Linked DNA regions of Homo sapiens. The protein of the gene in region 2 interacts with the protein of the main gene of each other region in a pairwise test. Each region holds a gene or a part of one and is shown on either strand. Other genes may lie near its edges.

Region 1 (3,500 bases), on a different chromosome or scaffold from region 2:
CCTGAGGCCGGGTGCGGTGCTCATGCCTGTAATCCTAGCACTTTGGGAGGCCGAGGTGAGTGGATCACAAGGTCAGGAGATCGAGACCATCCTGGCTAACACAGTGAAACCCTGTCTCTACTAAAAATACAAAAAATTAGCCGGGCGTGGTGGCGGGCGCCTGTAGTCCCAGCTTCTTGGGAGGCTGAGGCAGGAGAATGGCGTGAACCCGGGAGGCGGAGCTTGCAGTGAGCTGAGATCGTGCCACTACACTCCAGCCTGGGTGACACAGCAAGACTCTGTCTCAAAACAAAAACAAAAACAAAAAACAAGTAGTTCCTGAATAACAGATATATTCTTTTTGTTTTTTTTTAATTTTTATGTTTTGAGAAGGAGTTACACTCTTGCTGCCCAGGCTGGAGTACAATGGCATGATCTCGGCTCACTGCAACCTCCGCCTTCCAGGTTCAAGCAATTCTCCTGCCTCAGCCTCCTGAGTAGCTGGGATTACAGGTACCTGCCTGGCTAATTTTTTTTTATTTTTAGTAGAGACGGGGTTTTACCATGTTGGCCAGGCTGGTCTCGAACTCCTGACCTCAGGTGATCCACCCGCCTCAGCCTCCCAAAGTGCTGGGATTACAGGCATGAGCCACCATGCTTGGCCTAACAGATAAATTCTTATATAGAGAACAGGTATGAGGCAGAAGTTAATCTTTTTTAAAAAAGCAACTTTTCTAACAGCATGTGACTATAGAGTAGGAGATGAAAGGGTAATTTTGGTACACAGAGATATAAGGGGATGAGAAGGGTGGAGACATCAGGGTCCTGCAGAACTTAGGTGATATTTACACTCACACAAGAGAATGAACATTGACCTTTCAAAAGCTTTTCCAAAAGCAGAAGAGGAAGGAACACTCCTCAACTCATTCCATGAGGCTAGAATTGTCCTGATACAAAGACTAGACAAAGACATCATAAGAAAACTATAGACCAATGTCACTTACAATAGCATTAAAAGGAGTAAAATATTTAGTTGTAAGACTTCTATGTAAGACTTCTACAATGAGAACTACAAAACATCATTGAAAGAAATCAAGAGACCTAAATAAATGGAAAGACATCTCATATTCAGCATTGGAAGGCTTAATATGGTTAAGATGGCAATACTGGTCAGGTGCAGTGGCTCATGCCTATAATCCCAGAATTTTGGGAAGCTGAGGTGGGAAGACTGCTTGAGCTCAGGAGTTTGAGACCAGTCTGGGATACGTGATGAGACCGTGTCTCCACAAAAAATTAAAAAATTAGCTAGGCACAGTTGCACACCCCTGTGGTTCTAGCTACTTGGGAGGGTGAGGTGAGAGGATTGCTTGAGCCCAGGAGGTCAAGGTTGCAGTGACTGCTGTCTGGTACTCCAGCCTGGGTGAAAGGACAAAACCTTTTTGGGGAGGGTGGGGAAGATGGCAATACTCCACAAATTAGTGTACAGATTCAATGAAATTCCTATAAAAATCCCAGCCTCTTTTTTTCTTTTGTTTTGCAGAAATTTACAAGCTGATGCTAAACACACATGTGACAGGATCAGGGTTCAGGCTCAGGTCTGAGCCTCAATCTGACACTCTCTGTGGAATGGGCAGTCAGGAAATAACAGATAAATAACATCAAATTTGAAGGTTTGCCGAGGAGTGAGAGAAAAAACTCCCTTTGCCTACCTCCTAGGCTTCAAAGCTTTCTGGGCCAAGACGTCAATTTAACTGCATCCTGGGTCAATGAGGCTTTTGCACATTAAGCAAATAAATCAAATTACTAGAGTTTAAGCTGTGTTTTCTTTCAGTATTCCAATGAATCACTTTTTGACCTTTGGAATTATTAGGTACTTGTCAAGTCTGATAAAATTAAGCTGGAGATATTGCAGATATGGGTGACAAATATGACTGAATAAAGTCTGAAACCATTCAAGACTATAAAATGTGTTTGAGATTTAGGGGAAGAGGAAAGACCTTTTAAAAATTATGAAGGCTATTAACAGGCTGAAGATGACTTCAATTCACCATATCTCAGAATCAGTAGGCACTCCTATAAAAGTGTGAGCGAGATAGTTAACTCATATTAACTTACGTTAACAGACTCCATGTAAGGATGCACAAGTTCACAGTAGTGCTGGGTATGCGGCACATCAAAGGCCCAAATGCCTTTTATTATCAAAGACAGGCCAAATCTAGTCAAGTTTTAGAGTTACCTATACTTACTGTATTTCTATATTAGGTTATTTCATGACATTTATTTCATGACTTTTTTTTCCTAAAAATGAATCCGAATAGCTTTATTTCATTTCTCTTTCTTCTTGAGATGTGGTCTCGTTTTGTTGCTCAGGCCAGAGTGTGGCAGGCCAGAGTGCAGTGGCACAATCATAGCTCACTGCAGCCTCAACCCCCCAGGCTTAAGGGATCCTCCCATCTTAGTAGTTGGGACCACAGGCATGCACCATCACGCTTGGATAATGTTTTCATTTTTTGTAGAGATGGGGTCTTGTAATATTGCCCAGGGTGGTCTCGAACTTCTGGGCTCAAGTGATCCTCCCACCTCAGCCTCCAAAAATGCTGGGATTACAAGCACCAGCCACCATGCCCAGCCTTTATAGTTTAATTTCATGGGAACTTGTGGGGGAAATGCTAAGAAAGGAAAGTAGAGAAAAATACACTTTATTTTCTATTTAAGTAGACCTTATTTTGTTTAACTATACTGATATTGATAGGACAAGTATTCTATTATTAAGTAACAATTAACATTCTTTTTTTTTTTTTTTTTTTTTTTTTTGAGACGGAGTCTCGCTCTGTTGCCCAGGCTGGGGTGTAGTGGCGTGATCTTGGCTCACTGGAAGCTCTGCTTCCCAGGTTCACACCATTCTCCTGTCTCAGCCTCCTGAGTAGCTGGGACTACAGGCACTCGCGACCACGCCTGGCAAATTTTTTGTGTTTTTAGTAGAGATGGGATTCCTACTAAACCCCGTTAGCCAGAATGGTCTCGATCTGACCTCGTGATCCACCTGCCTCGGCCTCTCAAAGTGCTGGGATTACAGGTGTGAGCCACCACGCTCGGCAGTAAGTATTAACATTCTATTAACTATACTGATAGGGCAAGCATTCTATTAAGTAGTTATGCATATTCTATTCAAACAAATTAGAAGCCTTCTAGATTAAAAAAAATATAGGTTTAAACTGCTTGAAAATTAAAGGGTACATGACAAATACTTACATATCATAAAAAGAATATTCAGATTGTGCACAAAGAAAATATAAACACAGATAATAGTAAGATACAAAAACATCAAGCAAACAAAGATTAATATCTTCAGAAATGTTGTATGTTTGGCAAAAGCTCCTATAACAAATAGTAGGAGGCCGGGCACAGTGGCTCCTATCTGTAATACCAGCAGTTTGGGAGTCCGAGATGGGTGGATCACCTGATGTCAGGAGTTCAAGCCCAGCCTGACCAACATGGCAAAGCCCCATCTCCAGTAAAAA
Region 2 (5,711 bases):
TTCAAACTGCCCCTCAAAATGCTACCATCATATCTGCTATGAATACATATACATATATAAACAAACAAGAATCTGAAATGAGACCTTAATGATTAACTACTTATGAGTACAAAGTGGGATTTAAGAATAGTAGTGGCATATTTGAATATGAAGTGTAGTCTTACATTTTTTACTCCAGAATGTCTTACAAAAAAAATCTATAATGAAAATATATTCTAATTTTCTTTGTGCACTTATATGATTTCCAGATTTTCTTTCAGGAACATTTATTTCCACTCCAAATGAAAATAAAAATACATCCTGTTCCTCATATGTTAATTGAAAAAGCAGCATTTTATAATGCAGTTAATATACATGTCCATATATTAAGAGTACATGTGTACACATACAGATACTTGAAGTATATATTCTCAAATGGTAATGTGGCTGGCTATCTACGAAGCAACATTATTAGTAATTTGGATTTTCTTCTAAATCATTTGCAACAGTTCCCATTTTCTTAAATTTACTTTAGTGGAAAAAATGATTCTTAATAAAGAATTTTAAAAACAAACAATGCAACTTTAGTAGAAAAAAGCCTTTTCCCTGATGAGTAGATACTGAAGGCAATAGAACCAGCAGGATCATCTGCTTCTGTCAATTTTCCTGCACAGCTGCCCACCCCCACGAAAGAAAAGTAGATTATTAACTTTCAATCAAATTGTGTTGAAAATAATTTCACAATTAGGTTGAAAGATGAGACTGACATTATTTAACATTTGTATAGTATCAGAGCCTCCGTTTGTTTGGCTTTAAACCCATGACATAGAACACATTACTAACATAAAACTCTCTGACATTTTTACACAACTACTCATACTTTCCTATCTCGGTGTGTTCTATGCCCTTTGCTTGGAATGAATTTCCTTTCTTCTCTTGTTTGTTGGGTAATCACCTATTTATGTTTCAAAATTTACTTAAAACATTTTCTGTGTGATGTCATTCTTCATAGTTTCACCATCTCTCTCTTCCTTATTCAACACACTGCATTGTGATTAGTTATAAATCTTCCCTAACAGATCAGAATATGTTTTGATGTAGGGACCAAGTCATAGTTATTATTGTATTCCTGGAGCCTAGACTATTTGTTGAGTAAGTGGTTTTAAAACAGCTTCTAAAACATTTAAAAAATTACTTCTGTATTTTTTTCCTTCACTTCCATTTTTTTTTCAGATTTAACAAACATTTATTAAATGCCAGACATGTTGGGGACTTCCACCAATGTGGCAAAGGTGAGTTTTTATGAAGTGCTCACACTGTGGTAATTGCTATGGAGTTACAATAAAGTATAAAACAGTCTTACAATTGTTTTCAGATTTAGCTGGCAGGAGATTTTAAAAAAACTCACACATATGTAGCAATTCTAAAATAGTTAAGGGCCAAACTGGGAGGTACTAACTTGATAAACTCAGTAGAACTTTAGATACAAAGGCTGATGAAGGCTGGAGGGCCTGGGGAAGAGTACATTCGGTAGAGGAAGGACTTGAGGGATTTGTTTGTGATTTTGAGAGGCAGGTGGGACAGAGGAAACAGAACCGTTTAGGGAAAGTGGCAAGTTATGATAGGAAAAAGACTAGAAGAAAAAATGAGTGTGGCATGTGCACAAGACTGAGGACGACATAACTGGATTGGGGGTCAGTGATACAAAGTCTTGTGGAGACTTAACCTAGTATGTATGAGTTCATTCATGATATAGGCCATAAAAAGGTATAGATCACATTAGAAAAGATTGTTTTATCATCCTACATTTTCCTATTTTGTTTTTCCTCAGACTCCCTCATGCCACTTAGCTGCCTCAGAAAAACTGACAGTATTGGAGGATGCCAAAAAAAGAAAAAAAGAAACTGGTCAAGAGACCCTTTGTGATTTTGTCTGCTATTGGGCAGCAACTCATGAGAACTGGCCAATAAGACTCTACGGTTATATTAGAAGTGGCTCTGGAGACCTTAAAGTTATGCTATTCTCATTTATTTTAGTGCAGAAAGGACTCAAACAATCTGACATCAGTGGGAAGAGCGTATACAATGAAAATCGAGTGTCTTTGGACACTCTCTGTACTCAGGTCTTTTGAGCTTTTCAAATAACAAGGTACCAAGGCTCCTAAAAAGCCAAAAAATGTGGATTCATACTGGCTGCTCTACTCAGAGATTTGGGCTTACAGATCTAATAGCTCCATTAAATGCATCGTCATTTTGTTGGAGGAGACAGTATAGAGCGGTAGTTAAGAACACAGACTGTGGAGACAGGCTGCTAGATGTAGAACCCTAGATCTGCCACTTGCTAGCTGTGTAGCCTTAGATAAAGTACTTAAGTTCTCTGTGCCCCAGTTTCTGCATTTGTAGCATCTCTTAATTTTTACACAACATGTAAAAAATACATCAGTTTTGTGGCAGGTAAGGAAGTTTGTACTTTTTGGTTTGTTTTTAAGACAGAGTCTTGCTCTGTCACCCAGGTTGGAGTGCAGTGGTGCGATCTCGGCTCACTGCAACCTCCACCTCCCGGGCTGAAGCTATTTTCATGTCTCAGTCACCCAAGTTGCTGGGACTACAGGTGCATGCCACCACGCCTGGCTAATTTTTGTATTTTTAGTAGAGATGGGGTTTCGCTATGTTGGCCAGGCTGGTCTTGAACTCCTGGCCTCATGTGATCTCCCTGCCTTGGTCTCCCAAAGTGTCAGGATTACAGGCGTGAACCACTGTGCCCAGCCTGGAAGTTTGTACCGTGGAGCTAATTCTATTCACCTTTTTATTTTTTCCCCACGAGCAGATTCAAGTTGCCCTGGATATATGCTTGCTGGAGCTAATTCTAACTAGACAAGTTGCTACAAAAGACAAGCAAATATCAACTGCATGAGTGTTAGCTCATCCTTGTCTCAACAATGTCTCACTCTGTCGCCCAGGCTGGAGTGCAGTGGCGCAACCTCGGCTCACTGCAAGCTCCGCCTCCCGGGTTCACGCCATTCTCCTGCCTCAGCCTCCCGAGTAGCTGGGACTATAGGTGCCCGCCACCACACCTGGCTAATTTTTTGTATTTTTAGTAGAGATGGGGTTTCACCTTGTTAGCCAGAATGGTCTCGATCTCCTGACCTTGTGATCCACCTGCCTCGGCCTCCCAAAGTGCTGGGATTACGGGCATGAGCCACTGTGCCTGGCCGAAACCTACTGTTTCTAAAAGGTCTGTTAGTAACCTCTAGTCTTTGGCAACTAAGAATTTTAAGAAATATTCAATAATTCTTTAACTTGACAGCTTAAGAAACCAGGTTGTGAAATAGTGGTTTTTAAGAGGGTTCTTATGTGGCTGATACTTTAGGTGCCATTAAATAAAATATTAGTACACATAAAATAATCTAAAATCCCAAAAGATAAGCTTTAGTGTTATGAAAACAAAATTTAGTTAACATATATTAAGAAAATGCTTAGTATTAAGTAAACCAAGAAAAAAAAGAAAAGAAATGGAAAGAAAAACCAGCATACTTCCTTCCAAAAGGAAGGTGATTTTGTCTTTTAGGTAAACCACTTAACATCAAAAGTTTTTTCAAAACAGAAAAAGTATCTATTATGAAAAATATATGTATATTACTGAATTAGCTGTATTTCATCTTGAAATTCTCAGAAAAAGATAAGGTAGATGTTGCAGCTTCCTTGATTTTAGAAGAAATACTACATTAGCAAACACTGAACCAAATAGGAAAGGGTATGAGGCTTATGGCTCAGGGTGCAGGCACTAAAAAAGTAGCGGTAACACAGCTAATAGGAATTCCTGCAAAAGTTTTGAAAAAAAGACTCCTCAACCAATTTGCTCTACAAAAGAAAAAACTTTCTTTTCTACTGTAGGCACTGGTATATGACTTTTGTTGCTGACCCTTCAGTAGGGCTCACAAATATATAAAATAGAACATAAATAAAAATTATATACAGTTAAAAGTATAATAGTCTAATACCAAACACATTTCCAGAGGTACCAAAGAAATCAGGTTACATGTGAAAACAGTATTTGAGTTATGTTGTAGTATCACTACATTTAATGATGTAAGGAGCTTCAGGACTATGAAGAAAATTTAAAATTATTATGTTATTCTTCACTAAGAAATAAACAGTACCTGTTGCAGTAGTCAACCACAGACTCCCTGGTTGTAAATAAAGCTTCCTCTCCTTTCTTGGCCTTTGCCCACTTTGAATCCAAAAGACAGTCCACTGCTTTTGAAGCTAAAGAAGAAATTCATTATTTTAAATTTAGCATACATGGGGATTTATGTCTATCTAAATAATATTTTATAAAGTAAAATTTCAACACTCTGGCAACAAAAAAGAAAACCAAACTCAACAGAAAACTAAATCTAACATGATCATGATTAGTAGTTCCCCAAAACCTCAACTTGTGAACTATATTAAGTATCTTTTAAAAGTAATGTTGGGAAATAATGGCATTCAGAAAGACCAACTAAAGCAAGTTAAATTAATGGGGAAATATTCAAAAATTTAAAATATCTGTATGTAACTATCACTCTTATTAATCACAAGCATATGTAGATAAACCAAAATGTTCACCACTCCCTGCAAGTAATAAAAATTCTCATCAAGTTTTACTCTAATACACTGAGGAAGAAGCTCTGTCAACAATCCACTGCTGTCACAAGAAACAGCTAAACATATTATATCTGAAGAGATTAGCACATCTACTTTTTAAAACTTGTAATGAATGTCAAATCATTAAAAACAGTAAAGAAAGAGACGATAAAGGACTTTTCCTCTACACTGGCAATTTAGTTTTTTTTTTCTTCTAAGAGACAGGTTCTTGCTCTGTCACCCAGGCTGGAGTACAGTGGTGGGATCATAGTTAACTGCAGCCTCTAACTCCTGGGCTCAAGCCATCCTCTCACTTCAGAGGCGCATGCCATCATACTCATCTAATTTTTTTGTAGAGATGGGGTCTCATTGTGTTGCATAGGCTGGTCTCGAACTCCTGGCCTCAAGCAACCCTCCTGCCTTGGCTTCCCAAAGTGTTGGTACTATAGGTGTGAGCCACGACACCCAGCTGCAATTCACTTTTAATTGATGAGAAAGGCAAACTCAACCCCTACTTATAAGCTCTGGTGTTATAAATGACATCAGCTTATAATGACATTGTTTGGGGAAAAAAAGCCAGTGCTCTTAGTTCCAAGTACGCATACTATCTAAACAAAAGGTAGTATTTTAAAACACTGAAAATAAATCCTATTTAAAAAAATTTCCAACAATTGTTATTAGAAAACATGTTATCTTTTTATTATAGACATTTTCAATCATAAAAGAAAAGAACAGAATAATCAACTGCCATATGTCCATCACCAGAACAATCACATTTGGAAAGCACTTTTAAAACTTCTACATATCCCAAATGTAGGTTAACTTCATAACATATGTACACTAATACGATTTTACTGATATAATCCTACCAATAAAATAATCAACCCGGTGACCCATCATATTGGTGGACTTTGTTGGACAGTTGAATCGAAGATACTTGGCCACAGCCTTCTCTTCTTTAGATGGTTCACCAACTTCCTGCAACATATGAATATTAATTTAGTATAATCATATACTTGAGAAATTCATGCGCTGAATAATAATTTACAAATCTATTTTATGAATCTTTTCAAGTGGAGTACAGGCCTTGCTTTCAAGCTTTCTCTG

Evidence for each region. Proteins that work in one complex are often made in the same cells at the same time.
Region 1: the proteins of SEC62 (region 2) and GLUD1 interact in a two-hybrid assay, tested with the Homo sapiens proteins (one large-scale study listed by BioGRID and IntAct).

The regions. Positions count from the first base shown.
Region 1 is NC_000010.11:87,070,844-87,074,343, forward strand, and holds part of GLUD1 (glutamate dehydrogenase 1, mitochondrial isoform a precursor), read right to left. Parts: intron 1-3,500. UniProt on the Homo sapiens protein: Mitochondrial glutamate dehydrogenase that catalyzes the conversion of L-glutamate into alpha-ketoglutarate. Plays a key role in glutamine anaplerosis by producing alpha-ketoglutarate, an important intermediate in the tricarboxylic acid cycle.
Region 2 is NC_000003.12:169,975,479-169,981,189, reverse strand, and holds part of SEC62 (translocation protein SEC62), read right to left. Parts: intron 5,583-5,711; coding exon 5,474-5,582; intron 4,245-5,473; coding exon 4,139-4,244; intron 1-4,138. UniProt on the Homo sapiens protein: Mediates post-translational transport of precursor polypeptides across endoplasmic reticulum (ER). Proposed to act as a targeting receptor for small presecretory proteins containing short and apolar signal peptides.